Linked DNA regions of Homo sapiens: region 1 is linked to region 2. The links come from fine-mapping of genetic effects on gene expression. Tissue or cell type: whole blood. Region 2 holds a variant in brackets; the other region holds the start of a gene. All regions are shown on one strand. Distances are from middle to middle.

Evidence for each region. PIP is the estimated chance that this variant, and not a neighbour inherited with it, causes the effect.
Region 1: it holds the start of ARHGEF6, and the variant in region 2 is fine-mapped to the expression of ARHGEF6 in whole blood (TOPMed, PIP above 0.99). The same link has a PIP of 0.9 or more in blood mononuclear cells.

Annotation. Positions count from the first base shown.
Region 1 is chrX:136,777,155-136,785,339 of GRCh38, forward strand. It overlaps ARHGEF6 (Rac/Cdc42 guanine nucleotide exchange factor 6), which reads right to left and starts at 3,778. Exons shown (of 22, transcript NM_004840.3): 1 at 3,564-3,778; 2 at 2,260-2,343. The coding sequence starts at 3,728. RefSeq lists an enhancer at 2,214-2,433.
Region 2 is chrX:136,745,767-136,753,951 of GRCh38, forward strand. It overlaps ARHGEF6 (Rac/Cdc42 guanine nucleotide exchange factor 6), which reads right to left. Exons shown (of 22, transcript NM_004840.3): 3 at 1,742-1,826. Among named protein-coding and RNA genes, the nearest start is that of ARHGEF6, 31 kb to the right of the region's middle. The variant G/A (reference allele first, on the strand shown) is at 4,292.

The sequences.
Region 1 (8,185 bases), 31 kb after region 2:
GTAGAGGTTGCAGTGAGCCAAGATCACACCACTGCATTCCAGCTTGGGCAACAGAGTGAGACTCAGTCTCAAAAAACAAAACAAAACAAAAACAAAAAACAAATAATCCCATCAAAAAGTGGGCTAAGGACATGAATAGACAATTCTCAAAGAACATATACAAATGGCCAAGAAACATATGAAAAAATGCTCAACATCACTAAGCACTGGAAATGCAAATCAAACCACAATGAGATATCACCTCACTCCTGCAGAAATGGCCACAATTAAAAAAAAAACAAAAAATATTAGATGTTGGCATGAATGTGGTGAAAAGGAAACACTTCTACACTGCTGGTGGGAATGTAAACTAGTACAACCACTATGGAAAACCTTAAGTATGGAGATTCCTTAAAGAAGTAAAAGTAGAACTACCATTTGATCCAGTAATCCTACTACTGAGTATCTACCCAGAGGAAAAGAAGTCACTATATGAAAAGGACACTTGCACACACATATTTATAGTAGCACAATTTGCAATTGCAAAGTTATGGACCCAGCCTAAATGCCCATCAGCCAAAGAGTGGATAAAGAAAATGTAATATACATATATATAATATGTATACATACACACACACACACACACACACACACCATGGAATACTACTCAGCCATAAGAAGGAACAAAATAATGGCATTCACGACAACCTGGGTGGAGGTGGAGACCATTATTCTAAGGGAAGTAACTCAGGAATGGAAAACCAAACATCATATGTTCTCACTTATAAGGGGGAGCTAAGCTATGAGGATGCAAAGGCATAGGAATGATGTAATGGGCTCTGGGGACTCAGGGGGAAGGGTGGGAGTAGGGTGAGGGATAAAAGACTCTACATTGGGTACAGTGTACACTGCTCAAGTGATGGATGCACCAAAATCTCAGAAATCACCACTGAATAACTTATCCATGTAACCAAACACCACCTACCTGTTCCTCCCAAACTATTGAAATAATATTTTTTAAAAAGGTCACACGAGTCCTATGAATTCGGTGCCACTATTATTCCCATTTTGTAGGTAGGAAGACTGAGGCCTAGAGTCATAGTTAAGTAACATGCCCAAGGTCACAAAGCTGCTAGTAAGAGAGAACTGAGATTTGAACCCAAAAAGTTTAGCACCACAGTCCATGCTTAAACCACAACTATTTGTCCACGGATAATATGACTAATACTAGTCTATTAATATAGAGTACTTCTTCTGTCCCAGGCCCTATGCTAAGGACTCTACATAAATTATCTCATAGATCTTACAAGGTTGGAGCTCTTGGCCCTAAATTATTATGCAGTATCTTATTTGATTCTTTTTTTTTTTTTCGAGACAAGGTCTCTTTCTGTCATTCAGGCTGGAGTGCAGTGGTGCAATCACAGCTCACTGCAACCTCCACCACCTCTTGGGTTCAAGCGATCCTCCCACCTCAGCCTCCCGAGTAGCTGGGACTACAGGCACAAGCCACCACGCCTGCCTAATTTTTGTATTTTTTGTAGAGTCACCATTTCACCATACTGTCCAGGCTGGTCTCGAACTCCTGGGCTATAGCAATCCTTCTGCCTTGGCCTAGGATTAAAGGCATGAGCCATCATGCCCGGCCTTATTTGATTCTTAAAGCAATCCCATGAGTTGGCTATTAGCATGTCCGTTTTACAGATAAAAATACTGAAGCACAGAGAAGTTAAGCAACTTGATGCTCGTGTGGAAGTATCACCTCCCTTTCAGTAACACTTCCTATACACACTGTAGGGATCCATATAATATAAAATAATGCCACAAAATTTACTATACAATTTCTACCTCAAAGCCAAGTTCTCTCAGCTTTTCAAGGCCTCTGTTCTAAAGTGTTAATGGGAAGGAGTAACAATGGCCTTTCCTCTTTTCTCAACTTGGGAGGATTACAGTGACCCTCTCCAACAGTCAGTGGCCCACTTTTGGTTCCCCTTAGTAGGAGAACACACCCACACAAGCTCTGTCACTGGAAGCCTGTTTACAGGGCTTGGATGCTGTATATAAAAGGCATTATTGTGTGAGTTTTTATTTTGTTTTGTTTTGCTTGGAACTGGTTTCTGGAAAAGACAGACTAGCAATCCATTACTGGGGACCACCAGTCTGCTACCTCTGTTTAACTCAGTGGCCAATGACAGTGAAAATAAACAAGTACTCTTACTACCAATCTTGATTAGCAGAGCAAAAAAACGATGACAACAGGGAAGGCACCCGGGGTAGGCTTACTTCCACTTGGAGGGTTGCACATCCTTTCAGGAAGTCATTGATGTTGTTGATGCAGTCAGCTTCAGTTTGGGGATCCAGACAAAACTAGAGGAACACAGTGAAATGTCACTTGGAGATTGTCATCCCATGCCAAGCAAAGTATACTCATCATTTGCTGATAACTAGAGAAAGCAGGCCTCTTAAGGTGTGGGGCAACACTGCTGTCAATCCAGGAAGAGAAATAACCACTGAAGGAAGTGATGCAAAAATCTAAACGGTCGATCTTTGTTTCAAATGTCACCAAACCTTTAGTGGCAAGCCATGTCTACTTACAAGCTTTCTCTCATGCCTTCTGTTCCAGTGTGCTGATGGCAAATTAGGGAGACCAAGACAGTTTTTTGAGCTTAGTTCTTGCTTTCAAGAAAGGAAGCAATCCCTGGTACCTCTCTCTCCTCCTTCCCCCTGATAATTTAATAAAATTCTATTTCCCCTCTACATTTGACCACACTTCTTTACATTTTATCACTATTTAATCACTCTTTCTCAAGTTTAAGAAATTATAAGTAAATTTATTTGCTCAATAAAAATACAAACTGGCTCATGAAGGCAAAAGTGCTATGCTCACAGTCCATGATGACCTTAAGAAAGTAAATGTAAAATTGTACCTTTAAGCTTACTTAAAGTGCCTACTTTAGAAATTATCTATTCTCGTGATCGTGGATTTCCAGCTATTAAAAATCTTGAATTGTTTTAAAGAGAGTAAAGTTAGTTTCACTTTGAACGCACATTGCATTCGAAACATATATCTGGTTTCTATTGCTTTTACAAACTTTATGTGACATTTTGAATTATTTTTTTCCTAGTTGCTATATAGTCTCTCCTTCAATGGATTTTTCTAAAAGGAAATCTACACTGATTTTAATCAAACTGCCAATAAACACCACCAAGATCTGTTATAAATCATTCTATTTTTCCACAGACTCATAAGTACCCCAAGTTCAAAACATGTCCTCGGTACACAAGGAGATGTAACATGCATCTCCATGATAGAGCAAGCTTGTGATATGAGTGTTCTCCTTGTCCCTTGTTGCCAGTGGTGTCACAGGTTTTCCCTATACTACAATTTGGGGGCCAATTACTAAAGAATAACGTTTCATTTTCTTACATTTTCAAACTACAAAAACAGTAAGAAAGAATGTCTAACTCTTAGAAAAATATTAAAGTAGGAGATTCCCATGGCCTGGGAAATAGAAAAATCTCAAGAGTTACATGATTGCTGCTCTCTGGTGATAAGCAATCCCAAAGAGACTGCAAATTTCCCTTACCTTTTCCACAGAGCCAGGCATGAGTCTGTTGATCAGTTTGCACAGAACTACCCCATTTTTCAGCGAGGACTTTAAAAACTCCTCCGGATCACAGATGGTCTTTTTAGGGGACTCTAAAACTCCCAAAGATATAAGCCATGTCACGATTTGTTCTTCTGGATTCATTACTGAGGACGGTACACTCCAAACAGCACTCTGGGGCAGCTGCAAGGACTAAGCCACATCCGCGATTGCATCTGCTGTTGTCTTCCTTTTTATGAGTTCTCTTCGGGTGCTTGCAGAGCAAAGGTTTAAAGCAACTTTTCTTAAACAACAGCGGAACCCACTCAAAATATGGGATTTTAAAACCACAGAGATCACGGTCCAAGATGTGGAAACAGATAAGAATTAATTTAACAATCCTGGATAACGCTGGTTTTTCCTTTTCAAAACCTGCAAAACAAATTCGTTAGGATAAAAAAAAAGAAGAAACGCACATGCACACACGCATACACACACACGCACACAGAGTGCAAGAAGTTATAAGGGAAGAAAGTGAAAAGGATGCTGGGGAGGGAGGAGAGACAAGCAAGCAAGTGCTTTGGGAAACAGAGGTGAGCCAGCACTTCAGGGGACCTTGGAAATGAGACACTCATGGGCCAGTCTGGGAAAACACTGTCAATAAATAGTCTAGCCCCAGTGAAAATCTGGCTTCTGTTAGGAGGACGATGCCAACTGGCTCTTAGGTCAGACAGATCTGAGCCTCATGGGGAGATGTGCTGGCACAACAGGGCTCAAAGAAGGTAGACAGAAAATTCTTCCAAGAAATAGCCGGATGTCCTCATAGTATCTCCCAGAGATGGTGTGTCACGATCATTCCTTGCAAAACACGTTGAGTTGCATGGTGACAACGTGCCAAGCAAACGAAGATTATGCCTGCTGTCAGCCATCACTGTGTATAAGCAGAAGCTAGAAGAATGGCATTTTACTTTGCAGCCAAAAAGCTATGTTTAGGGAAATAGGCTAAGGATAACATCTGACATCCTGTTTACTTGCATTCTTTAGCAATTCTTTTTCTGGACCTGGTTCCACTACATAATCCAGCTGCAGTACCCTTAGCAAAGGCTCAGACTCAGTCACATAAGTGGGTAAAATACACTTGAAAAAATAGAATGTTTGAGAACAAAAGAGCACTTGTCCTCTGTCTACACTACAATATGGAAGATTCTTATTTTCCCAACAACAACAACAACAAAAAAACACTTTGCACTTAAAATACTGCTCTGAAAAAAAAACTGTCTATAACAAGAGATCTTCATCATTCTCAAACATTTTCAGAACCACTTGAAATAGGCATACTATTGGGAAATTTATGATAAGGCCAACTTTAATAGTATAACCCTATGTTGGCAAATGTGTGGCACTTACCATGATTACCTCTCCTCGTGCATGGGAGACATCAGATCATGTATAGCTCTTTCCTACTAAGCCTCAGAATTCTTTTCAACACAGCTTCAGGCATCTACTACCAAAGAATCAGCTTAGATAACCCTACTAAACATTTTCAAAGCTGCCCTTTCTTGCTCTGTCAGGACACTTGTCACACTTTACTATTATCACTTGTTGATCTGATGATCTGACTCCTCCACAAGAATGTAAACTTCCTAAACTCGGGGTCTTGTTTTTTTTTATTTAACACTGTGTTACCAGCAGACTGCCAGGTATACACAGTAGATGTTAAAAAATGCTGAATGAATAAATGAATGTATTCAGATGGTGTCCCTGATATAGACAGTAACTGATTATAGCAAGGATTTTTTGTTTGTTGGTTGGTTTAAATGGCTTAAAACAAACATTTTTTCTTGTTAATGATTTTTACCATTTTATTAAGCTGTAATTGACACATAAGGAACTGCATATATATGATTTAATGAATTTTGACATATACATACATCTTTGATACAATCACACAAATGCAATCCAGATAAGCCTTTCCATCACCCCCAAAATTGTCCTCGTGCCCTTTCAATTCTTTCTTTCCTCTTTGCCTCCAAATGCCAGGCAACCACCAATCTATTTTCAGTGTCTATAGATTAGTTTGCATTTTCAAGAATCTTATATAAATGGAAGTACACAGTATGGTACTATCTTTTTTCTGGCTTCTTAACTCAACATCATCATTTTCATACTCATTCATGTTATTGTGTCTGTCCATAGTTCTATAACAAGGTTTGCTTGATGTACTTGTGACTTAAGCAAAATAAGTATAATCAATCAAAAGTTTTCATTGACGTTGACCCATGGCCAAATCTATGTAATGGAAATAAAAACAGAATACATTTGTTGATAAATAAAATTCCCAAATCTGACGAACTTAAACACATTTTTATATGTCATCTGAACAGTTTTCACAACTGCTCATCAAAATTTTACTCTACAGACAAACAAAATCTGGCAGTATTATTGAGGTATCACTTACATCTTCTGATGAAGAACAAAGCCTGAGTAAGTTTTGTGAACCCAGCCTCCTCCAAAACAGTCTTGAGTTCACCAAGGTCATCTGGATAAAACTCTGCCTCATTTTGGACACTCACTATAGCAAATATTACTATGAGTAATAAAGTATATCAGAATGGCAAGGCCACTGCCTCAAGGCAAAAGAACCAGTTCTATTTGTATAAAGATTGGAAGTTACAGTTGGTGTGGTAAAATGTCAACAAAGCAAGGAATTCCAGGGCAGTGGCAAGCATATAGGTGAAATGGGTACCCATGAAACCCAGGCTGGTTAGGGACTCAAATGAAGCTAGAAAGGAGCTGATGAACTGAGGGAATAGGGGAAGAGGGGGAATTCAAAGACTGGGGGTCACAGCAACACAAAGAGCAGGCTTCACACAAGAGCATGAGAAAAAAAAGCAAAGATCTCTCACCCTACCTCAGATCCTCAGTACCACACCCTCTGGGCCACTGAACCTGCCTCTTCAAGGGCTTTCCACCTCCATCCTCTCATCCTAATGAACTCTCTAACAGGGCACATTTGGGTTGATTTTCCAAAAACACCTCTAGTGTTAATACCCCTGTTCAAAAACCCTCAAAGGCTCTCTATTGCCTAAAGCAGGAATTGACAAAAAACAATGTTCATATGATCATCTCCTGTGAGGCATAAAGGAGAAAGGAAGGTGAGAGTGGAACTTAAGCTAAAATAGGTAACATTTCATGAAAAATCAAAAGATCTTCAGGAAATAAGGCAAATGTGAACATTTGTTAAGACTGAATGCTGGGTACACTGGTACCTGTTTTACTATTTAGTTTTGTGTGTTTAAAATGTTACTAACCGATTCTCTTTCATTTCAAATCTACTAAGGCACTTACTAAAAAAGAATATTTGGGAGCTCTCTTCCCAGATACTCCAGTTCAGAAGATCTGCAGTGGGAAAAAGGAATTTGTGTTATCAAAGTATCCCACTTGATTCTGATGCAGATAGACCAAGGTCACACTTAGAGAAATGAGTTTATTGGTCTCTAACCTTCTACACCACTCTAATTTCTGCCAACACTTGGGTCATTTCAATATCCACAAGAACAACAATCCAACATCAAGACCTCTCAGTTCCTTGAACTTCTCAACCTGTAATCAATTTATTACCTCTCATTTCCCCTTTATGCCTATTCTGTGAAATGGACCTGGGACCTTGAAATATTTCTGACTTTGCCAGCTGGCATGATACAAAGTTTTATCAGTAGGCAGTGGTGGAGAGACATTGCAGGAAGAAGGGGTTTTACTTCCTGTTTTCTGTGCGCTCACTCCACAAGCTCCTGCTGAGCTCCCAGCTTTCCTATTGCCCACCTTCTGCAGCACTGGTTTTCCCAACAAACAGTAGGTAGCAACCTCCCCAGGCACTACCCTTGAGTGTTTAGGCAGCAAAGAATCTCTGATGAGACAGACACCTTCCATGTGAACCAGCACCGTAGAGGGGTATATTTCAGCAAGTTCCAGAGAATGTACATCCAACAAGTTCCACCAACTCAGCACCAGAGCAACTTCTCCAATAAGGCCTGGATCTCGACCGTGGGTGGAGAGGAGGGTTATCACAGCTCTAGAGGTATCGGCCATTACATATTATTTTTATATTGTCTGCTATTTATATCTGCTATCCCATACTTTTTAGAGTTTCCTTTATTTATTACTAACCAATTCTTCAACACTCCAATCCCCTGTTATTGTTAATTCTTTATGTTAAACTCTTCTTGTTAAAATTACTATGTAGTAGGCTGGGCACGGTGGTTCACACCTGTAATCCCAGTACTTTGGGAGGCCAAGGTGGGCAAATCACCTGAGGTCAGGAGTTTGAGACCAGTCTGGCCAACATGGTGAAACCCAGTCTCTAATAAAAATACAAAAATTAGCCAGGCATGGTGGCGGGCATCTGTAATCCCAGCTACTCTGGAGGCTGAGGCAGGAGAATCGCTTGAACCTGGGAGTCAGAGTTTGCAGTGAGCTGAGATCGTGCCATTGCACTCCAGCCTGGGCGACAAGAGCCAGACTCCATCTCAAGAAAAAAAAAAAAATACTATGTAGTGTCTATGTTCTGATTGGACACCAACTGATACACCTTGTTATCTTAAATGTATACTTCCTCTCCACTT
Region 2 (8,185 bases):
CACACGTAACAATATGTGTGGCATATATGATGTAAAATCTCCCTGATGTGTGTGGGGCAGGGTGGAGAATGAGAGTGAAAGAGAAGATGTGTTTGGGAAAGATGTAATCTTGATACTAGAATAATTTTTTTAACAATCAGATTCAAGAGTCTTCTCTTCCTTGAAACCTTGTGAAATTCGACCAGGCCAGAGCTGAGCTGGATGTTTTCAGTTTGTTGAGAGTATACAAAAGAGAGGAGCTGGCTTCTTGACAAATTTCAATAAGGGTTCTTTTCCTCTCCATTTATTTTTAAAAGATATAAACTGCAAAAGTCTAAAGCCCAAACATTCCCTAGGCGACAAGCTCAGTATCCAAGTAATTTCCTTGATGCTGTGGGTTTTAACTTTCACCTCCTTGTATTTTATAAATATCTGTGGCAAGGGAAGAGACTGTAAAACTTGCTAGGAGAGTTTGGCAAAGGAACGTATAATTTGTGTGGCATAATGTTAGAATTACACGATCCTCCCTGACTAGAACTGGATAGTTGTCATGTGTGTTAAATATAGTTACTTGAATTAGCTGTACTTTCAGCTATACGCCTTGCAATAGCTCAAAAGCATTTTTTTTTCCAAATAGCAAAAGAACAACTTTGGAGAAGTATTTTTACTTGTATTGCTATTATATACAGCTCTTTTGACAAAAACTATAATTACTCGATAGCTTCCTAGATGCTCTAACCTATTTGGCACTTGATTATATTGTCTGCTCTTGTCCTCTAATTGTTTCACGTGGGTAAGTTGAGTCTCCTTAAATAGACAGTAATTTTCTCAAAGGCAGGGACCATAGCTTTGACATTTTTTGTAGCACCTGGCGATGCTGGGCACACAGCCTCTTGACTCTACAACAGTTTGAGCAGCAAGCCTCGTGCTTGGGCATAAGGGCTCTGTAGTCATTCAGATGTGGGTCTGAATCCCAACTCAGCGACTAACTTTCTAGTTGGGCAACTGTTGGCCTGACTTTCCTTATCTGTAATATGGACCTAATAATAATAATACCTACCCCCAGTGTTGTTTCAAGGATTGGATGAGATCACCTGTGGCTCTTATGACAGCCTAGATCCAGGGCAAGAGCTCAAAGCATTTTAAGTATGATTATTACTATTCAGCTGTTGGTAAAATATACCAGGGAAGGAGTGAAGCTACATTCTAAGTGTATCATCATTTTCTTCACATTTACTAGCATTTATATTTAATACCTCTAGTGTGGTAGGTGTTAAACATTTAAATAAAAGATATTATTTTCACTCCCTATGACCCCAAGATTTCATTTTTGGTGCAAGGCTACTGAGGGGTTCCTTTACATGGACAAAGGCATACATAAAACAATGAGAAAAATATGTCTCTAGTGGGGAAAGGGAAGTGACGGCTGTATTTTGTAAACTCTATGAAAAAGGGAACTGGTCTTTCCTTTTTCTTCTCTGTTTTGTTATACTCAGTTGGTGATTCAGAGCTTTGAATGGAATAGTTTCTTAGTTCTTATCATTATATTAAGGGCATTAGAATAACATCTATGATAGGTATATTTTAAATCCTAAGCCATGAAAAATTCAAGCATTTGACATTTGTTGGGGTGTATTTGGGGGAGCAAGGGGAAAATTTGCATCACGAGAACAATCCTGGCCAGAGTTGGCTCCTAGGGTAATCACAAACACATGGATTCAAAAATGTCACCCAGAACATATAAATCACAAGCCCGGCTTACCTTCTGTTGCTTTGTTGACAGCTAAAAGAGTACTCAGTACCTTGGAGAAATTGACCCCTGAATAAAGGTCATCAGGATCAAATATCTATGAGAAAGGAAAATTGAAACCGTAAGACACTACAAGTATTCAACTCAACAAACAAAACTATCAAAAGGCCACTTCCTCCAGCTCTCCGGAAAAAAAAAAAAAAAAAAAAAGTGTAGAAGCCAAGACACAAACCTCCATATACCTTTGGGAGAAATGAGAGCAGCAGTTGAGCCGCCTAATGACATGTGGCAGGCCATCAGTGAGTCAGAGCAAAGCAGTAATGGGAAATGAGAGCCAAGCTGAGAAGGCAGCGCCCACCAGGAAATAAACAGTGCATACTCAGACCCACTCTTCTGGCCTGAATGTATCAATAGTTTCAGCCCAGTTACAGGAAGCTCATATGCATGGGTTACAATCAATGCCCATCACCTACATAATGTCCTCGACAGTCCATAAATAAGGAGGTGGAGCCTTTTTGACATGGTTGCATCTGTACAGTTTATTAGCTGTGCCTAGTTGAGTCACTGTCAAAAGTGCCTTTTTCTCTGCTCTCCTTCCTCCCAACTGCCACCCGCTGCATCCCAACTGCCTAGGATCCCAATTCCATGTTGCCCAAACTTTCTGCCCAGGTCTGCCTTTTGCTCCCAGCTTCAGTTCTGTTTCTGCTGTTTGACCTTGCCCCTCTCAGCTCATCATGAATTCAAGTATTTGCCTGCCTGGGCCTATGGGCTCTTCCTGGCTTTAGATGACTTTCCCAAATATGACCTCTGGCCTGTCTAATACTACTCAACTCTTGGCAAAAAACACATTAAGGAAATACATTTCACTTTACCAGTCAACTGTCAATCTGATATGCTATTGTCCCCAGTGAAGATACCAATCAGATGTTGTTTTCAATACAATTTACCTGTTACCTTTGAAATGTAGTCAGTGTGTTAAAATATATTGAGTCTCAAATATGTATATTTGAAATTAGAAGTGTTCTCATGCACAGGTACAATCTATTAATTTGCCAGCCAACAATGTAAGTATGCATATCTGAAGGTAACCAGATGCCCACCTTCTGGATGGAAATGCCCCTTCTAAAAACATTTTGTTCCAGGATGTCTAGAAGTCTCTTAAAGAAAACAGATTGCATCATTTTTTCCCCAAATGTGGTGATGGAAATAAAATGTACCTTTTCATATGGGACATGATTGGTAATGGGCATAGGATTTTAAAGGGTCTGTCTTCCCATTAGGTAGAGCCATTTGTTCCATTTTTAAGCTGCATATTTTCTGGGAACCATATCAAGACAAATTTCTATCTTTTTTGTACATGTTCTTGAAAACCTATAATCTGTTTTTAGAGTGAAAATATATAATATCAATTTTTCACGTTTTGGGGGGTCAATAAAGATACATGCAAATGCAAACCTACACAAGTCTGCCTATTCTAGGATTCACTGCTTTATTCATTTAATCAATGAATATTTTGCATTCAAAGTTAAAATGACCAAAAAGCCCAGATGCATCTAAAAATGAGACATTAATATATTTCTGGTAAAAGAGTAATGCTAATATTACTAAAGAGTTAAACAACAACACATTCCAAATATATTTCTGAATGCTACAATATAAAATTCAAACTTTTCCAGAAATACATTGACAAGAGTTTTGTTTTAGTTTGTCAAAGCCTGGGTGAACAAGAGGCAATAGACTAGAGAGAGTGTCTAGTATCTCCGGGGATTTCAGACTTATTGAGTCTCCCTTAGAACTGATCAACTGGGAAAATGTTAATGACATGTATGCCAAAATAGTAGCAAAGCAAAAAAAATCACTTGTTTTTAGCCCATCAGTCCTAATGGGAGTGTGCATGTGTGTGTGCATGTGGATACATGTTTTGGGTGGGTGTGGTAGAGATGAGTAGATCTAAAATAATAAGCAGAAGTTAAATATTAGCAGAATAAGGCATGAGAGCAAAAGTTGTGATAAAAAACCTCTCCCTCTGGTTTTAGTTGTTCCTTATCCAGGGTTATTAAATGCCTATACATGGCAACACTGGTATTATTCACTTGTACAAGTACTTGACTGATTTTGAAAATAAATAAACTAATCAGAAAATGAAATGTGCATCAAGAAGAGTCATTGCATCTGCTTGAGGGAAGTTTCCTGAACTGTACTCGGTTCTCTTTTGAGAAAACCCCAATATACTCAAGTTTATCCATGGACACTGTTCTTGCTGCAAGCCTATTCTGAGGCACTAGAAACTACAGAGGAAGGAGTTGGAAGAAGCCTCTGGGAACTGCTAGAGAAAGCAACGCCTAAGCATTATTATTTCAGAGTAGCTGGAGAATCAGATACAACCACAAACACCCTTCACCACACTATACCTTCTAAGTCCTAAATTGAATGATATTGAAAATTCCACCCTAGATCTTTCTTCCATGCACTTCAGAGAGCTCCCCTATGAAAATGGAAATATTATCTGGAGGGATCACAACATTTTCAGCCACTATCAGTTATTTATGTCTTAGTGGAAAT[G/A]AGCAGTGTGAGACCAAGTTTAGAGATGTTGATGTGGAGAAAGACTAAGGGCTCTGGTCCCCAAATAGGAGAAAGCAAAGGAGAATTCCCCAATGTAGAGAGGGTGTGAGAAGAACAAGGAAAGGTAGATTAAAGTACAGACCACTTTTTCTAGGACTAATCCCACTCATTTATACATCCAAAATAGAGAACCAATTCCCTTTTCTGTCTGCAAAGCACTGGAACTTGTTAAAAAGGTAATGTAAATTTGCACATTTATGCTGTATGTAATTTTCCAAAGTCATTTTCAATGAAATTTTTCAAAGTCAAAGTCAAATCATGGCAAAGTCATGATGATACTCATCTTCTAGTACCCTGTGCAAGCCTCACTAGTCTGTTCAGTGTCTCTGGTTTGTGACTGAGTCCCAGATTAGCTGAACTTTCTTTATACCTATTTTGGTGCACAAAAAGCCAGTTAGTTCCAGTTAGATCCGTGAAGGTCAGATGAACAGCAGGATTCCCTCCCTCCATTCATCTTACCACTACTGTGACTCAGACAAGAAAAAAGTATTACTTCTTAGACTACGGCTAGATGGTGTCAAGGTATCATTCCTGCAATCAGATGATGCAATGTTCAAATCTAACAACAATAAAAACATTTACTCTAACCAATAGGACAGACAGGGATTAAACTTTATTAAAGATATTTTAAGTATTTACATATAGCCAACCTAAGTTGCATTCCTACATCAGTAGATGAAATCAAACTTTTTTTTTTTTTTTTGAGGCAGAGTCTCACTGTATCCCCCAGGCTGGAGTGCAGTGGCATGATCTCAGCTCACTGCAACCTCCGCCTCCCAGTTTCAAGCAATTCTCCTGCCTCAGCCTCTCGAGTAGCTGGGATTACAGGGACCTGCCACCATGCCCGGCTAATTTTTGTTTGTTTGTTTGTTTGTTTTTGTTTTTGTTTTTGTATTTTTAGTAGAAATGGGGTTTCATCATGTTGGCCAGGCTGGTCTCAAACTCCTGACCTCAAGTGAGCCACCTACCTCAGCCTGCTAAAGTGCTGGGATTACAGGCGTGAGCCACCGCGCCCAGCCCAGACATTTAATTTTTAAATGTTTCCCTACAGCTTTTTATTCTAGATATCCCCAATGACAGCAAAACCTATTTGCAAACCACTAAACACCAGGTGTTAATTGTGAATTATTGGGGATCTGCCAATGTAAACTGCAAGAAGTTAATATTTCTATAGCATTACAAATAGAACCTTTTGGAGTAGTTCTCAGTTTCAACATGTATGCTATTTTATGACACTTTCCCTAAACTGCAAAAAGCCAGGAAGCATATGAGAATAAACTTTCCCAACTCCCTGTTCCATTCCCTCACTTATCTTATAGCTACTGTTTACTGATTTACTGAGCTCCTGCTATGTTCCTGGCACCACGCTTGGACATCACATACATATTGCTATGATCTGAATGTTTGTGCCCTTCCCAAATTCATATGTTGAAACCTAATCACCAGTATAATGGTATTTGGAGGTGGTGGCATTTAGAGGTGATTAGATCATGAGGGCATAGCTCTCATGACTGGGATTGTTGACTTTATCCAAGAGGCCCCAGAGAGCTACCTTGTCCCTTCCACCATGTAAGGACATAGAGAGAAGGTACTATCTATGAATAGGGAAGTAGGCCCTCACCAGGATACTAAATATGTCTTGATCTTGGATTTCTGGCCTCCAGAACTATGAGAAATACACTTCCATTGTTTATAAGCTACCTGGTTTATGGCTTTTTGTTCTGGTGGTCTGAACAGACTAAGATACAAATATATTTTTTTATTTGCATTTGATTCTCCCAGCAAGCCCATGATGTCAGTACAATTATTTTCCCCATTCCACGGATGAGTAAACTAAGACTCAGAGTAGTTAAGTCACAGGGCAGGAAAATGATGGAGCCAATAAAGATACACAAGAAAATGCTCTGAGGGGCATTGTAGCCCTGCATGTACACCTTATGTTTCCATGAGACATAGAGAAAAAATGAAAAAGCAATCCATGAGTCTGTATGCGAAAAGAAATCCTTTGCTTCTGTCAATACAAGTAGCATCTGTATCATCTGCATCGAGTTTGTTATAGCCTCTAAAATGATTAATTCAACTAATTGTAGCAAAGAGAAAATTTTCCATATTACAAGACTGTCTCCACAGGGGCCTTGCCTAATTCCTGTGCTGTCCTTCCCATTTCAAGGGTCAGCCTTCACCTAGGAGGCACTTGGCCACATTTGCCAAAAGAGGGGAAAAGCTACACTAAGCTCCTCCTATTTGTTGAACCAGGTCTGCCTCGTGAGCCACGATCCATATTTGTGAGGTCCTGGTCTGGTAGGGGTCCAGCTCGTGATTACAGAACCAAGCTAAAACATCTGTGCCACGTGCAATGACACCTAGCCTCCTGATTTTCTTGACATCATGCTCTAACCACCTGAGTTAACCAGTCACAGCAGTCTAGCCACATCTTAGTTAAGAAAAGAAGGCATACCCTACCCTGGTTCAGAACTGGTCATCTTTAATGTCATGTGGTTTCAGTAACACCCAATCAACTGCTATTTAAAGGTAATTTAAGGTTGGGGGTGATTATAATAGGTTCCATTACTCAAGAGTTAAAAGTCTAATCAACTGAAAAGCAAGTGATACATTGGGACCACAAGGACATATAGCTTATATTTCAAGCCTGTTTTTTAAAAAAGATTCCAAATATTTAGGAACATTCCAGCTCTTCCTTGTTCTTATTGCTCTTATTGAACAAAATCTTAAATTAACTTAGCTCATCTTGAATCACATTCTTTAATTCTCACAGCTGAGCACACTGCCTCTGTTAACCCCTGAACTTTGGTGGAAATGTCATTACATAGTGCAACAGAGCAAGCAAATCTGAGCTGCTTAGTCATATTTCACTGGGTGGTACCGCTCCTGGCCCTGTGAACGTGATCTGGGATGTGTGCACATAGCTCCTACTAAAAGCAGTCACAAAGTCAGCAACAAATAATGCTCTTAGCTCAGAAATTGGATTCATTACCCACTGGTATTCCACTTACTAGAATATAGTGGATGGCATTTCTACTCTGCCTGGTTTTAAATAATAGCTGTTCCTATTTGATATGGACCAAACTTAAGGGAGCAAATCTTGCTCTCAACTTTTATTTCCTCCCTTTCTCTCCAAGATCTAATTTGTGCCTGTAGCTGAAACAACATACAGTGTATTGGAAAGAGCACTGATGTGAGAGTCAGAAGACTTTGACTCCAATCTCAGCTTTGTCACTATTGAGCAGTTGTGAGGACCTTAGGAAAGCAACACTACCTTTATGAGGCTCCATTTCCCATCTGGAAAGTGTCTTTGAGCAAAGGAGCTCAGTGAGAGGTCTTGTGGTCCATCATCTAAATAGGAGCTTTTAAAGGCAGCATCTTGGCTGGGTCCCCAAGGCCCAGAATCAGGTCTTCAGTTCTCAAGGCTCTTGAGAATGGACTCACACTAGCCAAGCTCATAAAAGGCCAATGCATAAACCAAAAGGCCAATTTCTTAATTTTTACTAAAAATAAATGAAGCACTAAGAAGATTAAATACTCCCATTTTCTGGCCAGGGCACTCTCTCCCAATAGAGAAATCTCTCTGGTGAGCTAAATTATAATGAGAAATGTGTTGAGTACTACAGAATCAGAGCAAAGAGAGTCTAGGGTATTGCAGCCTAACATGCTTACAACCTGTTTACAAGCTGATTTTTCAAAATGTCATTTTTAAATGACCTATTTATAAATTCTGGCTTTATCTTGCTGCCACTGCATCGTGGCATTTGGACTGTGATCATGGACAGCTTTAACTCTCTATGTTTTCTTTTTGGCTCTGTGGATTTCTATAAA